Linked DNA regions of Homo sapiens: region 2 is linked to region 1. The links come from fine-mapping of genetic effects on gene expression. Tissue or cell type: whole blood. Region 1 holds a variant in brackets; the other region holds the start of a gene. All regions are shown on one strand. Distances are from middle to middle.

What was found. PIP is the estimated chance that this variant, and not a neighbour inherited with it, causes the effect.
Region 2: GARS1-DT starts here. The variant in region 1 is fine-mapped to the expression of GARS1-DT in whole blood (TOPMed, PIP above 0.99).

Annotation. Positions count from the first base shown.
Region 1 is chr7:30,657,989-30,666,092 of GRCh38, forward strand. CRHR2 (corticotropin releasing hormone receptor 2) reads right to left here. Exons shown (of 12, transcript NM_001883.5): 4 at 7,542-7,651; 5 at 7,082-7,199; 6 at 4,706-4,859; 7 at 4,168-4,228; 8 at 2,585-2,657. It overlaps LOC124901609 (a long non-coding RNA gene), which reads left to right. Exons shown (of 2, transcript XR_007060276.1): 2 at 1-2,053. Among named protein-coding and RNA genes, the nearest start is that of CRHR2, 20 kb to the right of the region's middle. RefSeq lists an enhancer at 4,150-4,692. The variant C/G (reference allele first, on the strand shown) is at 4,743.
Region 2 is chr7:30,574,026-30,582,129 of GRCh38, forward strand. GARS1-DT (GARS1 divergent transcript) reads right to left here and starts at 3,754. Exons shown (of 7, transcript NR_038889.1): 1 at 3,624-3,754; 2 at 2,539-2,685.

The sequences.
Region 1 (8,104 bases):
CATTCATCTACCTAGCAACCAAGGCCTTGTCTCCATCCTTACACTTGGCAGACATTTAGTTATGTGGCCCCACTCATCTCAGCTTGGGTCTATGTAACCTGAAAATCCTTCTTTCCTTTGAGCCTGTTTCCCAGCCTCCCCCTTCACACCACCACAGGTACCTTCCTCTCTCTCCAGGGAGCCTTCTGGTCACCCTGCCCACACTGAGCTCTCCGGCTTTCCATTCTTGGACTCTACCTCCCTGCTAAAAACACACTCCAGTTCTTTAGTAAGAACTGTCTATTGTACCCTGCCCTCGTTCAGCCTGTTTCTGGTTTTATTTAATTGTTCATTCATTCAATGAATCAATGGACCATGTGTCAGGCTCTGAGCCAGGCATCAGCGATGGCGAAGTGGACAGGCAGTCACAGCCCCTGCTTGCAGAGGGCTTGTGGCCTAGCTGGGGGCCTGGAGGGGTTGGGGGTGGGGGAGATGACATCTTTCCTAAGGTGTCAAAAAGACCTGGAGAAATGGCAGATGGGCTAAGAACTGAAGATGAGGCCCCCCTCCCAAATGAACTGAAGCACCAAGTCCTAGTCTCATGGCTCAAATTTTGACTGTTCCAATTTGCAGTTGTGTGGCCTTGGGTAAGTTGCTTAACCTCATGAGCTCCTGCTTCCTTGTCTGCCCCCGAGGGGCCTAACCACAGAGCTTGCCTTAGAAGATCAGCATGGGCTGAAATAGTCACAGAGACCACTAAGACCTGTGTCTGGCCTAGTGACTGCCAATCCTTTCCCATGACACCAACAATGACAACACCAGCAAGAAGTCAGGCTTCCTGCAAATTCAACCACCTGATTCACTTCTCAGAACCAGAAATAAGTGAGTGTCTCTTAGCAGCAGAAATGCAGCTGTGAGCTGCTGGGGAGTGTAGGGATGGCAGGAACACCAAACACGTGTCCAACCTCGAGGACAACAGGCAGATGGTGGGGACAAAGCAGGAGACCTGCCTTTGAGCCTCTGCTCTGCTAGCTATTAGTGGTGACCTTGGGCAAGCCACTTCATCTCTCTCAGCTTCTTCCTCTGTAAAATGGAGAGCATAACCCTACTTCTTTTAGGACTTGAGCATGCAAGGGTTGGAAATAATGTAGATAGAGCTTCTGGAAGGGCTCAGCTTGGAATGTGGAAGCCCCTGTTGGTGCAAAGAGCTGGGCCCAAAGGAAAGAAGGAAAGGGCTCGTGAGCACAGACGCAGGGGTGGAGCCAGAGAATGGGTCTGGAAGAGGAAGCATGGAGCTGGGTCTTGACACTGAGCTCTTGCGTTCCTCGCCTCCCTTTCTCTTGGCATTTCCTCACCACCCTTCCAACATCTTTACAGTTGGGGCTTACTCTTTGCCACCATTGGTCCCCCATCCAGGCCAGCCTTCCTTGGCTCAGTTCCAGGCTCATCAAAAGCCTTATTCCTCCAGGATGGCCCTTGGCAGCTGGTTGGGAGGGAAAGGATCTCATGGGGTTTCCATACACACTGAGGGGTGAGTGACTCACTGCAGCTGGGAGTCCAAGGACAATCCTACTAGCTGCTGACAAAACCTGGCTTCTGCCTCTGAAGCGAACCAAGCCCTGACGGTGGAATTTCCAGCAGTGGGTGAAAAACCTTCCTAGTCTTCATCAGTTCACATATATCAAGGACACTCCAAAGATGGAGGTCAAATGAAACCCGAAGTCACAGAAAAAGGAGAGTAAGAAAATAAAAGAGATAAATAATAATTGTCTCCAAGGTAGACAAAAGAAAGCCCCACCAGGCACCTTCTGTGTGCAGGAGGAGATGGCACTCTCGCTGAGTCTCCCAGAAGGAACTGTGGCCCTTTAAGGAAGCTGGTACATACAGGAGCCTGAAATTACTGAGCCTGAAATAAGTCTTACGTAAATGCCAATTTCTTACGGGGCTTTTTTGTATGTCTTTCTTTCTTTATCTCTCTCTCTTTTTTTTAAAGGTATGATATATAATGGGTTCCTTTTGCAGAATGCAGCCTCTACTTGAACTCTCTCTTAATTAAAGCTCATTGTGGATTAAAGATGTGTGGCAATTATACCTTAGATGCAAATACATTTGGCAAAGGGCAGGGAGCTGGACAAGGAACAATTCCTCATTATGCTGCATCCCGGTATTCACCGCTTCAGGCTGGGGGTGGTGGGCTGGACCTGGAGAGGGTCACTGGGGGCTGAGGGGAACGTAGGTCTGGAATGAACAGAAGCCCGCACACTCTTCTCTTGTCACCAGCTGCCTGCTCACCTGGCTTTCTCAGCATTGTACAGTGTCAGACCGGGAGGGCACAGGAAGTCTACCCATCAGATCCTTTCTCCTCCCAGAGAAAGAGCCCTGAGGTCAGCAGAGTGGTGCAGGGCTGCGCCAGGGCATCGAGCATGAGGAAGGGAAGGCCGGGTGGTGCTGGGGCACAGGGTGGCATGGACAGGGTACGGGGGTGGCATATAGAGTGTGTGCGCAGGGCTGCCCATGCCACATCTTTCCCAGCGTCTCTGCCTGGGTGGGCCCTCTTCTGTCCTCTTGGCACCCAGCCCCATCCCAGCCACCGCTGAGGGCTTACCAGGAGCACGAGAATGATGGGGCCTTGGTAGATGTAGTCCACCAGGTCGCCAGGCTCCTTGCCAAACCAGCACCTGTGAAGATGGGGTGGCTGTAGGGGGCCTCCTGAGCTGGAACTGGGGGACCCCCACAGACTTGGGCCCAGGGTCCTCCAGCTTTACCCTTCCTGAGACCCAATCTCCAGGACTGCCCCTTCCCAGAAAGCCTTGGTGGAAATACCAGCTCCACTGACCACCCTTACCCACCAGGCTGTCTTTTGCTCTACATGGTGGGTCTGATCTCCCCAGCCCGACTGAGGACAGGCCATGGGTCTCTTTCTCCTCCTCTTTTACCTGCCCCATTGCAGACTGCTAGGCATAGGACTGGGCATGCAGGAGGCACAGGAATAAAGGGAGAGCTGGGCTCCCCCTTGCTGGCCCAGGGCCAATTGCCTTAGGCCACCTGTTCCCATATTGCTTGAAACCCGCTGTTCCGTGTGCCAGGCACTCACTCGGCCACACAAAGCAGCAGATGTGGAAGTGGAGCCTTCCTACCTCCAGCCTGGGATTTTGCGTCTTTGAGCCAATGCTTGTGCACCCAGTGAGGGGAGCTGCTGCCTGGCTGGCCTCACTGGCTGCCAGAGGCATAATTCATTCTCCGGGGATGCTGGTCAGGGGAAATGCTTTAGGGTCTGGGTCGGCCAGCAACTACTGGACCACAGGGAGGGGCCATCAACTTTGGGGAACTCATTCCTCTGAAATCTTGGAGGTCATCCAGTGCAGACCTGCCTCAGATAGGATTCTCCCTGTCTCCCAGGGTTTCTGGCCTCTGCTTGGAGCCCTCCTTTGACAGGAAGCTCACCACCTACCAAGGCAGCCCTCTTCTTGGGCAGCTTTTACTCTTACAAGCTCTTCCTAATGTTGAGCTCCTGGAACTCTACTCCATTCTTGCCCCCACTCTGAGAACAGATCCCCTCTGCTCTCTCCAGGCTCTGAGACAGACCCCTTGGAGATTTGCATACAGGCTAATGTTCCCTGGTCCCCGCTGCTCTCAGCTGGTGACACCTGACTTTCTGGCTGCTCCTTGGCTGACCCATGGCCAGAGTTGCTGTCATTTGGGCTGTGGCTCAGCATATTACAGCCTCTGGCATAGGGAGAACCTCAGGATGGGACACTGCACCCAGGCAGAGACTGAGACTTCAGAAAAAAAAACAAGCTCTGTTAAATGCTCATGGACTCTTTAAATGCTCATGGACAGCTCTGGATGTCATGTGCGGCCTTGGCCCCTTCCACATACCCCGGGCCAGAGCTGCCACATCCAAGTCTGAGGAGGCCTTACAAAGACCAAAGGGGTCATGCGTTGGGTCGGGGGGCACTTCAAGGAACCACAATTCCTAACTTAATTCAGCAAAGTTCCTTGAGCCCTACCATGTGAGTACCTCTGAGTGCAGGACTATTTTTTTCAATTTAAGGACAACAGGAACGTGGATCTGTCTAGGTGTGGCTACAATTCCTGCTCCACGGCTTGGCCAGAGCCCAAGGCTGACCTGTCCTAACACCCCCATTCCCTTCCCCATGACCCCCCATGGCTGGCCCATCCACTTACTGTTCATTCTCATAGTAGAGCTTGCCGATGGCCCAGGCGACGATGATGGGGAAGGGGATGCCTGAAAGAAGGAAAGACTTGGGCTGCAGGGGACAGATGGACAGGGACTTTCTTGTAGGACATACCGTGGGGTACCACAACAGGGCTAGGATCATGTTTTTACTCTTCCAACAGCAGGCCACCCACAACCCCAGGGGTGCCCTGTCCCTCAACACCTGGCCCATGCCCCTGCCCCTCTCTCCAAGCAGGGCTGCGTGATTTTGTGATAGAGAAGTAGAGCCAGCCAGTTTCTGAGCCAGAGACAAAGGCCTTTGGACAGGTCCTTCCTGGCAGGGGGAGAAGAGCTATTTGAGGAATATCCTTTGGAGAGATCCTTTGCTTGTTCCTCACCAGCATGGAGGGAAGTAGCTGCATCCACCGGACTGCGCTGGGGGTGGAGGGCAGGGCCAGGCTCTGGTCCTTGGACCCAAGACGAAGGGAAATGGCCTGGTGAGAAGTCCTCCCCCCAACTAGGCCCTGCTGCCCCTGGGACCCTCACACCATCCGATGAAGAGGAAGAGGCACTTGCGCAGGCG[C/G]TCAGTGGAGTAGGTCATGACAATGGCCGTGTGCAGGTAGCAGCCTTCCACAAACATCCAGAAGAAGTTGGTCACCACGAAGTAGTTGAAGATGGTGGTGATGCAGCGGCACCAGACCTGTGTGCAGGGCAGAGAGGCTGTCAGGAGGCAGCTTGGGGCCCAGGTAGGACATACCCATCCCCAGGCAGGGCAACAAGACACAGGGCTCCCCAAAGGGGGTTCGTGGACATGCCATCAAATACCAGCGAACCTCACTCTGAAAAGCTTCATCCTTCTCCAGTGCTCTTTCACACTTTCAGATTAAGTTAAGGTGCCATTCTCCACTGGGGCCAACGTGTTTTTTTTAACTTCTCTCTAACTCTTTCTAATTTTTCATTCTAGTAAAGAGAGCAAGAGTCTGGCTCTGAGCTTTCTGTAGGCAGAGGCTGGAATTCAACCATCTTGTTGTGTTTTCATTTTAGTTTTTTTGAGTCATTTTCAATCCATAGCAAGTCAGACCTGCTTCCTTTTGGGGATGGGATATGGAATTTCATTTAGAAAAAAATGAAAAAATAAAAGTGAGTAAAGTGAGTCAAGGGTGTATGAAGTGGGGCTGCGGCCAGGGAGGGGATTCTCCAAAGACTCTGGGTTTGGGAACTTCTGGACTTGGCACAATTATTACTAGCTCTGGAGGGAGACTTGCAAAGTACACGGCCCCCGGCAAGTCACTGCACCTCTCTGAACCTCAAAAAGTAACCCTGCCTTCCAGGGTGGTTGAAGGAGATAGAGGATGGCAAAGACAGGCATGAGGGTAGCTGTGTTGTGGCTGTGGTTGTGCCTGCTGTGGTTCCGTGCCTTCCCAGCAGAGGGGAATGTGTCCCTGTCCCTCTGAGCAAGGCCACCCTTCCCCAGGCACCAAGGCTACCTTCCCAAAGGAGGCAGGGAGGGGAAGACCCTGCCCCTTTAGAGCCACGCAGTGGGCCATGGCAGGGCCAGGGTCTAGACATTGGGCTTCCAGGCCAGAGCTCCTCTCAACAGACCCCACCTGGTCATCTTCCCCACAGGCTCATCCCCAGGGCACCCTGAGAGCCAAGGCTGGGACATGGGGAATGATGGAGCCAGCTCAAGGTCCGGGGAGCTGTGCGTCAGGGGCTCTGCTTCTGCACACAGCCCATCCTCTCTGTCTGGCTCTGACAGCCCCAGTTCTCAGATAACCCTCCTGTGCTGAGCTGTTGGCTGCTTCTGGGCTTCCCTGCACAGTCCCTGTGGCTGGCTGTCTCCTTTTTTCTGAGAAAGTCCTGCTGAGGTGGGAAGCTACCAAGCCCCTCCTCCCAACCCTACTTTTCATCCAGGGTTGATGATGTTCTATTAGCACAAGCCCACGTTGGAGCTAGAAGGCACCCTCAACTCGAGTGAACCTGTTTGATTCTGAGGCAGTGTTCTATGTGGGACCATGTTAAGGATCACACCAGGCTGGTGTCTGCTCAGGCACAGGCCACCCAAAGGAAATGTACTGAGAAGTCTCTGTCGGTGTGCCACAGGGCTCTGTGATGGCCCAAGACTAGTCTACAGTTTTACAATAGCTTGGACACAGTACACAGCAATGGACAGAAATCCAGAGTGGACAGTTAGCATGTGGGATAGCCCCTTATGTAGAGGTATCATCACTGCATGTGACCTTGGCGAGTCACTTAACCTCTGTGAGTCTCAGTTTCCATGTCTATGTAATGGGGAAAATGATCCCTGCTGGTCTCATTAGGATTAAGTGAGAGAAAGCTCAACAGAGGTTAGTTCTAGCTTCCTTTTCTCAAAGGGGTCTTTGAGGGCACCTGAATCCACAAGATGAGGAGTGGACTAGGATAAATGTGTCTAGAGTCAGCTTTGTGAAGCTCCCAGCCTGGCAGCTTCCTGCTCCTCCCAGCCCAGCTCTGTTGGGACAATGGCTAGGGTGGAGGTGAGCTCAGGTCTGGTTTTGCACCTGAGCCACAGCCCAGATGACAGCATTCTGGCCATGGGTCAGCCAAGGAGCAGCCAGAAAGTCAGTTGTCACCAGCTGAGAGTAGCAGGGACTGGTGAACATCAGTCTCTGTGTGCAAATCTCCAAGGGGTCTGTCTCAGAGCCTGGAGAGAGCAGAGGGGATCTGTTCTCAGAGTGGGGGCAAGAATGGGGTGGAGTTGCAGAAGTTCAACATTAGGAAGAGCTTGTAAGAGTAAAAGCTGCTCAAGAAGAAGAGGGCTGCTTTAGCAGGTAGTGAGCTTCCTGACAAAGGAGGGGTCCAAGCAGAGACCAGACAGACAGATGGGTGCCCCCGGAGCCCAGAGCCCCCCAGGTATAGCCCCGAGTCTCCCCGAGCAATGACCTCATTGCTCTCGTGCACTTCATGGTCAACGAGCTGCAGCAGGAACCACATGACATTTCGCAGGATAAAGGTGGTGATGAGGTTCCAGTGAATCACATTCCGCAGACAGCGAATGCTCCTGTGGGAGGTGCAGGTCAGGGGTCAGCCAGGTTCAGGGGTCAACTGGGACTGGGTTCCCCCTGAGGCCAGGTAGAGACTCAGCCTGGGATGAGGGCAGGGCTGCACTAGGAGCCACTTCCCACCCATGGTGGCCACAGTTGGGCCTCTGAGTCCAGCTCCCACTCTGCACCCCACATGCCTGCTGGTGATTCATGCCCTGGCACCCCACCCAAACCCCACTTTCTCCACGGGCCCTTTTATCTGCTGGGCCCCAGAATGGAGGTGAGAATGTCTGGGAGAGGTGAAGGGGGTGCTGTAGGGGGAGGGATGAGGAGAAAGCAAGGCGGAAGGGCAGACTCACCGCAGGGCCAGGAAAAGCAGGAAGGCGGCCACCAGGGCTGCCACAGATACGCAGTGGCCCAGGTAGTTGACGACAAGGGCGATGCGGTAGTGCAGGTCATACTTCCTCTGCTGGACAGACAGACATGGGCAGGGCAGATGGAGGCATGGGCACGTGGGGGTGGGGCTGGGTATTCCAGCCGTGGCCACCTCTGTGTCCTGACCTTGGGGGCAGAAGTGCTCCAGGTGTCATTGCCGTGCCTGGCTCTTAGGGTTCGTTCCTGTTGGCCCTGGGTGGCTCTTGTTGTTATAAATGGCTGTGGTCAGGCCTTCCAACATGCATTTATTTTTATTTTTTTAGAGATGGGGTATCACTCTGTTGCCCAAGCTGGGGTCCAGTGGCTATTCACAGGTGTGATCACAGTGCACCGCAGCCTTGATCTGCAGGCCTGAAGCAATCCTCCCACCTCAGCCTCTGAAGTAGCTGGGACTACAGACAAGTGCCACTGTGCCTGGCACCAACATGCATTTTTGGGGGCACATTTTGAGAGGTATGGGTACAGATTCTTTTTTAAAATTCTAGGC
Region 2 (8,104 bases), 84 kb before region 1:
TTACATTGGTGACTTTAGATGTCCCAGGGCGGGACCAAAATTTTGGCTTCTCTCAATACAAAGTGTTGCCTGGAATTTTAGTGCTTTGCGCACTGATATGTGCATTGAGATTGGGCCCCAAATGGGTTTCTGAGGGGATGCAACCCCAGAAAGTTTGCTCTGATAGGACTGGGGAAGGTTTACTGCTCATTCTGACATTGTAACCCTTGTCATTTCCATAATTTTAAGGCTATATAAGTCAGCCAGGTTCATTAATTTGAAAGGAGTTTCTCCCTTGTAGTTAGGATGTTAAGTTATTTTTTCAAGGGCCCAAGATTGGGCTGGGATCAGGATTGGTAGTCTGTTTGGATGATGATGGAGATAAACAAAGCCAACAGTGCCTTGCCAAAGCTGGACTGGTGGTATTTAACAGTCTTTGTGTTAAAGTTTTTAATAAATACCCAGAATCCATTAATTACCAGAGGGGTAAAGCGAAACTCTTTTGTAAAATAAAGCTGATTATCAGTATGCATGGTCTTAGTATACACAGGCTGTGGGTGACCATTATGGTATAAAAAAAAAATACTTATTTGTTATTTTGTTCTATAGATAAAAATTAATTAAAACACTTTAAAAGAAGTGATTCAATCCATTTGGAAGAAAGCAATTAAATTGTAAAAATATAAAAATGGCTACTATTATATCCAGCTTACAGTAAATATACAAGAAGGACACCAAGGAAAGTTGATAGGAATTTACTTATCTTTTGGCTGCCTTTTAAACAGGTACTTCAGGTCTTCTACAGGTTCACAGGTTTAGTGGCTGATGGGATCTTCAGGTTCCAGGTCTGGGGGCTTCAGTTATTGCAGGCTGGACCCTGGAAAGACATATCCAACTAACTATTCCCAGTACTTTGACTGGAGAAGGCATGGCCAGTACCACTGAAAATAGTCCCTTCCATTTGGGTTGTAATTGTTCAGCAGGTGATCCCTCCTTCCATGTTTTAACAAGTACTTTATCTCCTGGCCTGATTTTGGGTTGCTGGTTAGTTCCTGGTGTGGGGAGTCTTTGAGTTCTAAACTTTTGTAAAGCCTGCTGAAATTGTCCCAGGTTAATTACGCATGTTACTAAACTGGCTGTTTCTGGATCAGTAATTAGATCATTATTTAAAAATGGCCAGCCAGGAGCGGTGGTTCATGCCTGTAATCCCAGCATTTTGGGAGGTTGAGGCAGGCGAATCACCTGAGGTCAGGAGGTCAAGACCAGCCTGGCCAACATGATGAAACCCTGTCTCTACTAAAAATACAAAAACTAGTCAGGCATGGTGGCACATGCCTGTAATCCCAGCTACTCAGGAGGCTGAGGCAGGAGAATTGCTTGAACCAGGGAGGCAGAGGTTGCAGTGAGCCAAGACTGTGCCATTGCACTCCAGCCTGGGTGACAAGAGCAAAACTCCATCTCAAAAAAAAATGGCCTTCTGTATAACATTTCATATGAGCTCATATTAATTTTTGCTCTAGGAGAATTAAGGGTTCTTAAGAGGGCTACAGGCAATAAGCTGACCCAAATTTCTGATGTTTTCTAACATAGCTTAGCTAACACCCATTTTAAGAGCTTGATTAGCCCTTTCTACTTTCCCATGTAAATAATTTTTGATTCTGAGAGCCTTAGCAGCCCCTTGAGTTCTAAAAGATGGGTCTTTATCACTTTAGAGGCTTTGGGGTAACCCAAACTAGGGGATTTATTTCCTTTAAAAGAAGCTTAGCAACTTCATGAGCCTTCTTTGTTCTCATAGAGCAAGCTTCAACCCAGCCAGTAAAAGTATCTATTACTACTACCAAAAACTTGTATACTTTGCACACTGGCATATGGGTGAAGTCTAATTGCCAGTCTTCCCCTTTAACTTTAGCCAATATGTTCACACACAGAATCTCTTTTACAATTAATTTTTCATAAGCCTTCCACAACTTGTTCAAACCTTTTAGATTATTCCTATCTCACTTAAAACCATCCTTTCACCCTCTAAACTTAGGCAAGAAATCCACATTCCCATGCTTTTTACCAAAGGTACATTATCCTTTTCTTACATGAATTCTTTTCATAACTTACCCAGACCATCTACAAAATGCTTGGACTTTCTGAGTTTTCCTAAACATCTTTCTTTTTAAACAACCAGTCATTTTACGTTAGGACAAGAATTTATCGTACAAGATCTTTTCTCCTACAAAGCCACCATCTCTACAATCTTCCCTCACAAAAACATATCTTCATATATATAACTTTCTTCACATCTCTCCCCTACTTACTGGTTCCTTACTACCTTGTTTCATAAATAACTCTTTTTTTTAAAGTCCATAATTTGAATTAACTTTCAGATAACCTCCAAACTACACAAAATAATTCTTTCTCACCAATAACACATTTTTTGGCATATTTTGTATACAGAATTATATATTAACTATAATTCATATCCTTATGTATTAGTCTGTTTTCATGCTGCTGATAAAGACATACTTAAGACTGGGCAATTTACAAAAGAAAGAGGTTTATTGGACTTACATTTCCACATGCTGGGAAGGCCTCACAATCATGGTGGAAGGCAAGGAAGAGCAAATCACATCTTATGTGGATGGCAGCAGGCAAAAGGAGAGCTTGTGCAGGGCAACTCCCATTTTCAAAACCATCAGATCTCATGAGACCCATTCGCTATCATGAGAACAGCATAATTCAATCATCTCTCACCCACTGGATCCCTCCCCACAACACACGGTAATTATGGGAGTTATAAGAAGAGATTTGGGTGGGGATGCAAAGCCAAACCATATCATCTTAGTAACCTTAAATTTTAGTGAAACCTTAGGAAGCAAAAAATCCTAAACTATCAGATATTAGCATTTTATAGATGAGAATAATTCCACAATTTTTGGAAACATATTCCTCCCTATCATAACCCTTTCTTAATTGGAAATGACTGAGATATCCAATGGGCATCAAAAATACTTTTAAGATTTTAAATTACACAAAATTTACCTAATCATTCATCCCATTTACATGTACTTAAGTCTTTCATTTTTAACAGTTTATCTAGATTACTTCTGAAAACTGAGATATTAGACACCATCATTTAAAGTTAGTTATTTATTTGTTAACCATTTTTAATAGCCAATGAACATTATGTGTTCACCTAAATAAGAACCTCACAGTTAAATACATAGGTGTTTTTGCCAATAACCCAGAAGATTTAGCTAACAATATTAAATTAGTCTCATTTGTCAAAGAAGCCACATAAACTAAGGCCATTTTGTTTTGGCTGGGTTAATAGCTTTATAATCTTCTATGCCAAATGCTGACACTTCAACATTTCTAGCAAAGACAAATATAAAACCCAGACAAAAATGTATGCTGACAATTCTGAAGATATTTCTATTTTCATTTTACCAATAATTTTAAAGCCAGCTATTTAATGAAGATTTACTTAAGTCACATGAACTTGAAAATTGCTTGGACTTATTTATTTAATTTATGAGTGCTTTTTTATTTATAAGCTGATTTGGTTGACACAACATATAACAATAAGTGTACATACAAATAAACACATCTAGACATGTATACACACACACAAACGAAGATCCAATAGCTTTTACCTTGGAACTCTAGCCATGAGATATCAATACAAGCTCACAGGTTTTACATGGTTACACTTTGTTTGCTCCAATAGGTAATCCAGTGAAGGCTGTGAACCAAACATTTTTAAAGCAGTTCCGGTGGCAGTTTGATTTTTAAAGGCCAAACCTCCTCAGACTCCAAAGACACTGGAGCCAAATAGCACCAAAGGAGAGCACCATATGCTGACTAGGCCTGACCCTTCTTAGGACAGCAGCACCAAAGCCTGGATACATGCAACGTCATCCTGCTTTCCCATTCAACAGCAAACTCCAGATTCCAAACAATACTGGGGCCAAGTATTATTGCAAAAGAATATCAAATGTTTCCTCCTTAGATTATCAGGGTCAAATTCATTTCAATGGTTGAGGATGCAGCCAAGTGGGAAGTCAGGTGGAATAAATGGAGTGTTTCCTGTAGTGGTCTGCAAGAGAGAGACAATTCTAAGGAGGCCTTAGTACTAGACCTGAGAACCTTTGCCTAGGGCATCCCCTTTGGAGAGGCTGAGGTCTGGAGTTGGATCCCCTAGGCATCCCCCTTTGAGGTCCAGTCTAAAAGTGTCAGACATCTCTGACCTTAGGTGGGCACCAGTGTTGCTTTGTATGTTTTCCCTCCAGAGGCAATGGCCTAATATGAGCTTTTCTCTTGTCCCTGGATGAAGGTCTCAGCTTCTAGCTTCCTACCAATTTAGATAGGCCATATCTTCCTGCATTCCTTGCAAGACTAAGGAGGTTCCCGAACACTGCAGAGTTAACGGTACCAAGGCTAGTGGGATATTCCCCATGAAGAAATGGTGCAGAGGTTATATAAAAGATTGGGTTTATATTGGGTATATAAAAGATATATAGAATTTCTACGGGGTTCAGGGCAAGCAAACTGATGCCAAAGCAATGACCACCAAGCTCCCTTAAGTGGAGGTCCAAGATGTAGAATGTGTTCTAAAGCTTGTGGGTCCCAAAGGTCCTCAGCCAGTCAATAGATTCAGTAGGAGAAGGGAGGTCAAAATATCTAAGAGATATTATCTTTTGTCCTTACAGGCCAACTTTATGGGAGAATTTAGCTTAAGAAAGAGGGTTTAAGTCGCCTGAAATGTGTGTGAGTTCACCCTGGACGAGCTTCTGCTGCCAATTGCATCACAGGTAGGGATCAGGGACTATAACTCAAAAAGATACAAAAGAGTCCTTCCGCCTTCTGGGCAGGAGAGCTATCCCAGGTTCACTCCTTGGCCTTCAGGTAACAGTAGAGAGTGGTCCCGGCCAGTTTCCCTCAATTACCAAGAAGCTACTAGGAAACGGCCACTGAAAGACTGAAAAAAGGAAAAGGACTCAGGTCCCTCACCTGAATTGGGCAGTGGTGGTCAGGCACTTTCACACAGAAACCTTTCAGTTTCACCAGAGAGTGGCCCTGTTAGAAACCTGTGGTTGCCTCTGTGCTTAGGCACTGTCCACCGAGGGTTCCAAGCTGGAAAGGGAAAAAGAGACAGAGAAAAGAGTTCCCCTGTAAGGAGCAGAGAGGAAAAGGGAAATCAAGAGAAGAAAAATAAATCCCAAACTTTGGGCTTACCTCCTGGCTGGCTCGCCAATATATGTTACTGGTGGAGGGTCTTGACTATGAGTCATCCAGGTTCTTGGCATTTTGAACAAGGAACTGGACAAAATGCACAAACCAAGCAATGAAAGAATGAAGCAAAGAACGCACAGATTTATTTAAATGAAAGTACACTCCACAGACTGGGATTGGGCTCCAGCAAGGAGCTCAAGAGGCCGGTTACAGAATTTCCTGGAGTTTAAATACCCTCTAGAAGTTTTCCATTGGTTACTTGGTTATACCCTATGTAAGTGAAGGAGTGGCCCACGACAAGTCTGATTGGTTGTGGGAGGGGACCAATCAGAGGTACTTTCCATTTTTATCTGTGAGGCAGTGCAAAGACAGTAGCCTCTGATACTTTTGTTACTTGGGTGTGGAGAGGTGGGGTTTTCCTTGTGATTCAGTTCTAGGAAGTCAGGGCAAATTGGCCTTAGATTCCCTGCCTCCAGACCCTATTCTTCTACCTCACAAGCATGTCATGAATGGTCTGGAGTAAATCATAAGCGGATTTATGGAAAAAAAAGCTTTTAGATAATCAAGTTGTCTATAATTAAAGGGAAATTATTTTTAATGGTCTTTCTAGGAATTGGGTTTTGGTATTTTCTAAAAACCATTTATATACTGAAGAATCTTAGCACTTTGGGAGGCCAAGGCAGGTGGCTCACATGGTCACAGGTTCAAGACCAGCCTGGCCAAGATGGTGAAACCCCGTCTCTACTAAAAATACAAAAATTAGCCAGGCGTGGTGGCAGACGCCTGTAATCCCAGCTACTCGGGAGGCTGAGGCAGAGAGTTGCTTGAACCCAGGAGGCGGAGTTTGCAGTGAGCTGAGATTGTACCACTGCACTCCAGCTTGGGTGACAGAGTGAGACTCTGTCACACACAAAAAAAAAAAAAAAAAATTGGTTAGAACAATGGAATTTTCTTGAAGTATTGCTTCATTCTTAATAAAATTAAAATTGATAAAAGACATTATAATTTTTTAAGTAAATTTCAACTTGTATTGCATCTCACTGTTTTCAGCTTTTTCTCCCCTTTTAAAGTGCCTGAAATAATCACTCTATTCTTCAACTCATTTTCAGCTTCTGTAAGCTTCTTTTTTTTCGGGTTCTGTTGTGGTCTGATGCTAAAAATGTTTTCTCTTAAAGGTCTAAAGGAAATGTTTCCTTCCAACATAATATTCTGTGCTTTTGGCTTTAAATTGTTCTATGAAATAAAAAATTTTCACTTACGACCCAGGAAACACTCTTCCTATGTCTAACTGTGTCCAGAATTGGTTCCTGCCTATGGGTTCTTGGTCTCACTGACTTCAAGAATGAAGCCGCAGACCCTCGTGGTGAGTGTTACAATTCTTAAAGATGGTATGTCTGGAGTTTGTTCCTTCAGATGTTCAGATGTGTCCAGAGTTTCTTACTTCTGGTGGGTTCGTGGTCTTGCTGACTTCAGGAGTGAAGCCGCAGACCTTTGCAATGAGTGTTACAGCTCATAAAGGTAGTGCAGACCCAAAGCGTGAGCAGCAGCAAGATTTATTGTGAAGAGCAAAAGAACAAAGCTTCCACAGTGTGGAAGAGGACCTCAGCCAGTTGCAGCTGCTGGTTTGGGTGGCGAGCTTTTACTCCCTTATTTGGCCCTGCCCATGCCCTGCTGATCGGTCCATTCTACAGAGCGCTGATTGGTCCACTTTACAGAGTGCTGATTGGTCCATTTTTAGAGTGCTGATTGGTGCATTTACAAACCTTTAGCTAGACACAGAGCGCTGATTGGTGCGTTTTTACAGAGTGCTGATTGGTCTGTTTACAAACCTTTAGCTAGACGCAGAGCACTGATTGGTGTGTTTTTACTAGTGCTGATTGTTGTGCTTACAAACTTTTAGCTAGACACAGAGCGCTGATTGGTGCGTTTTTACAGAGTGCTGATTGGTGTGTTTACAAACCTTTAGCTAGATGCAGAGCACTGATTGGTGTGTTTTTACGAGTGCTGATTGTTGTGCTTACAAACTTTTAGCTAGACACAGAGCGCTGATTGGTGCGTTTTTACAGAGTGCTGATTGGTGCATTTACAAACCTTTAGGTAGACACAGAGCGCTGATTGGTGTGTTTACAATCCTTTAGCTAGACAGAAAAGTTCTCCAAGTCCCCACCCGACCCAGAAGCCCAGCTGGCTTCACCTCTCATAACTAATTCAAGTATCTCTTTAATTAGTTTTGACTTGCAGTTAATCTAAATGGATTCTCCACAGGGAACAGCAGTCGCAGTGCAGAAGCTCTTTGCTTTTGCTTTTGGGTAACTGGCCTAACAAACAGATTTTACACTTTATATTGAAATAATTCCTATGTCATTATTACTAAGTTTTGGTCTGCTTAGAAAAAACTGAGATTAAAAGAAAAACTATTTTTCATTAAGGTTATTACATCTGTGTAACTTTCTGTATGTGCTTTTAAAGTCCTTGTGCCATCAAGTTACAGGGTTTAGACTCCTGGGTCTAAAAAGGATGCCAAGTCCGGCTAAATCTTAAACACTGACAGCAGTTAAAGCTTTATCTTCAGACCCTGTAGAAGATACCAATCAAAATAAACTGTGTTCATGAGACACAGGGCCAGAAATTAAAACTATTCAACTCCTCAAGACCCAGGAACTATCATGGAAGACATGGGTGTGTGACATTGTAAGGGTCAATTTTGAGAGATAAAATAAGTTTAGTTTCTCTATAAATTAACCATTAATGTCGAAGGCACTGATGCAAGACTAGCATATGGGCCTCTGAGTCAGATTAACAAGGTTTTCTTGGAGCGTTAACCCACTCCTTAATAAAAGGTTATAAAAAAGGCTTATGGAAATTACATCTTATGGTCAAGATGATTAAACTATTTAATATT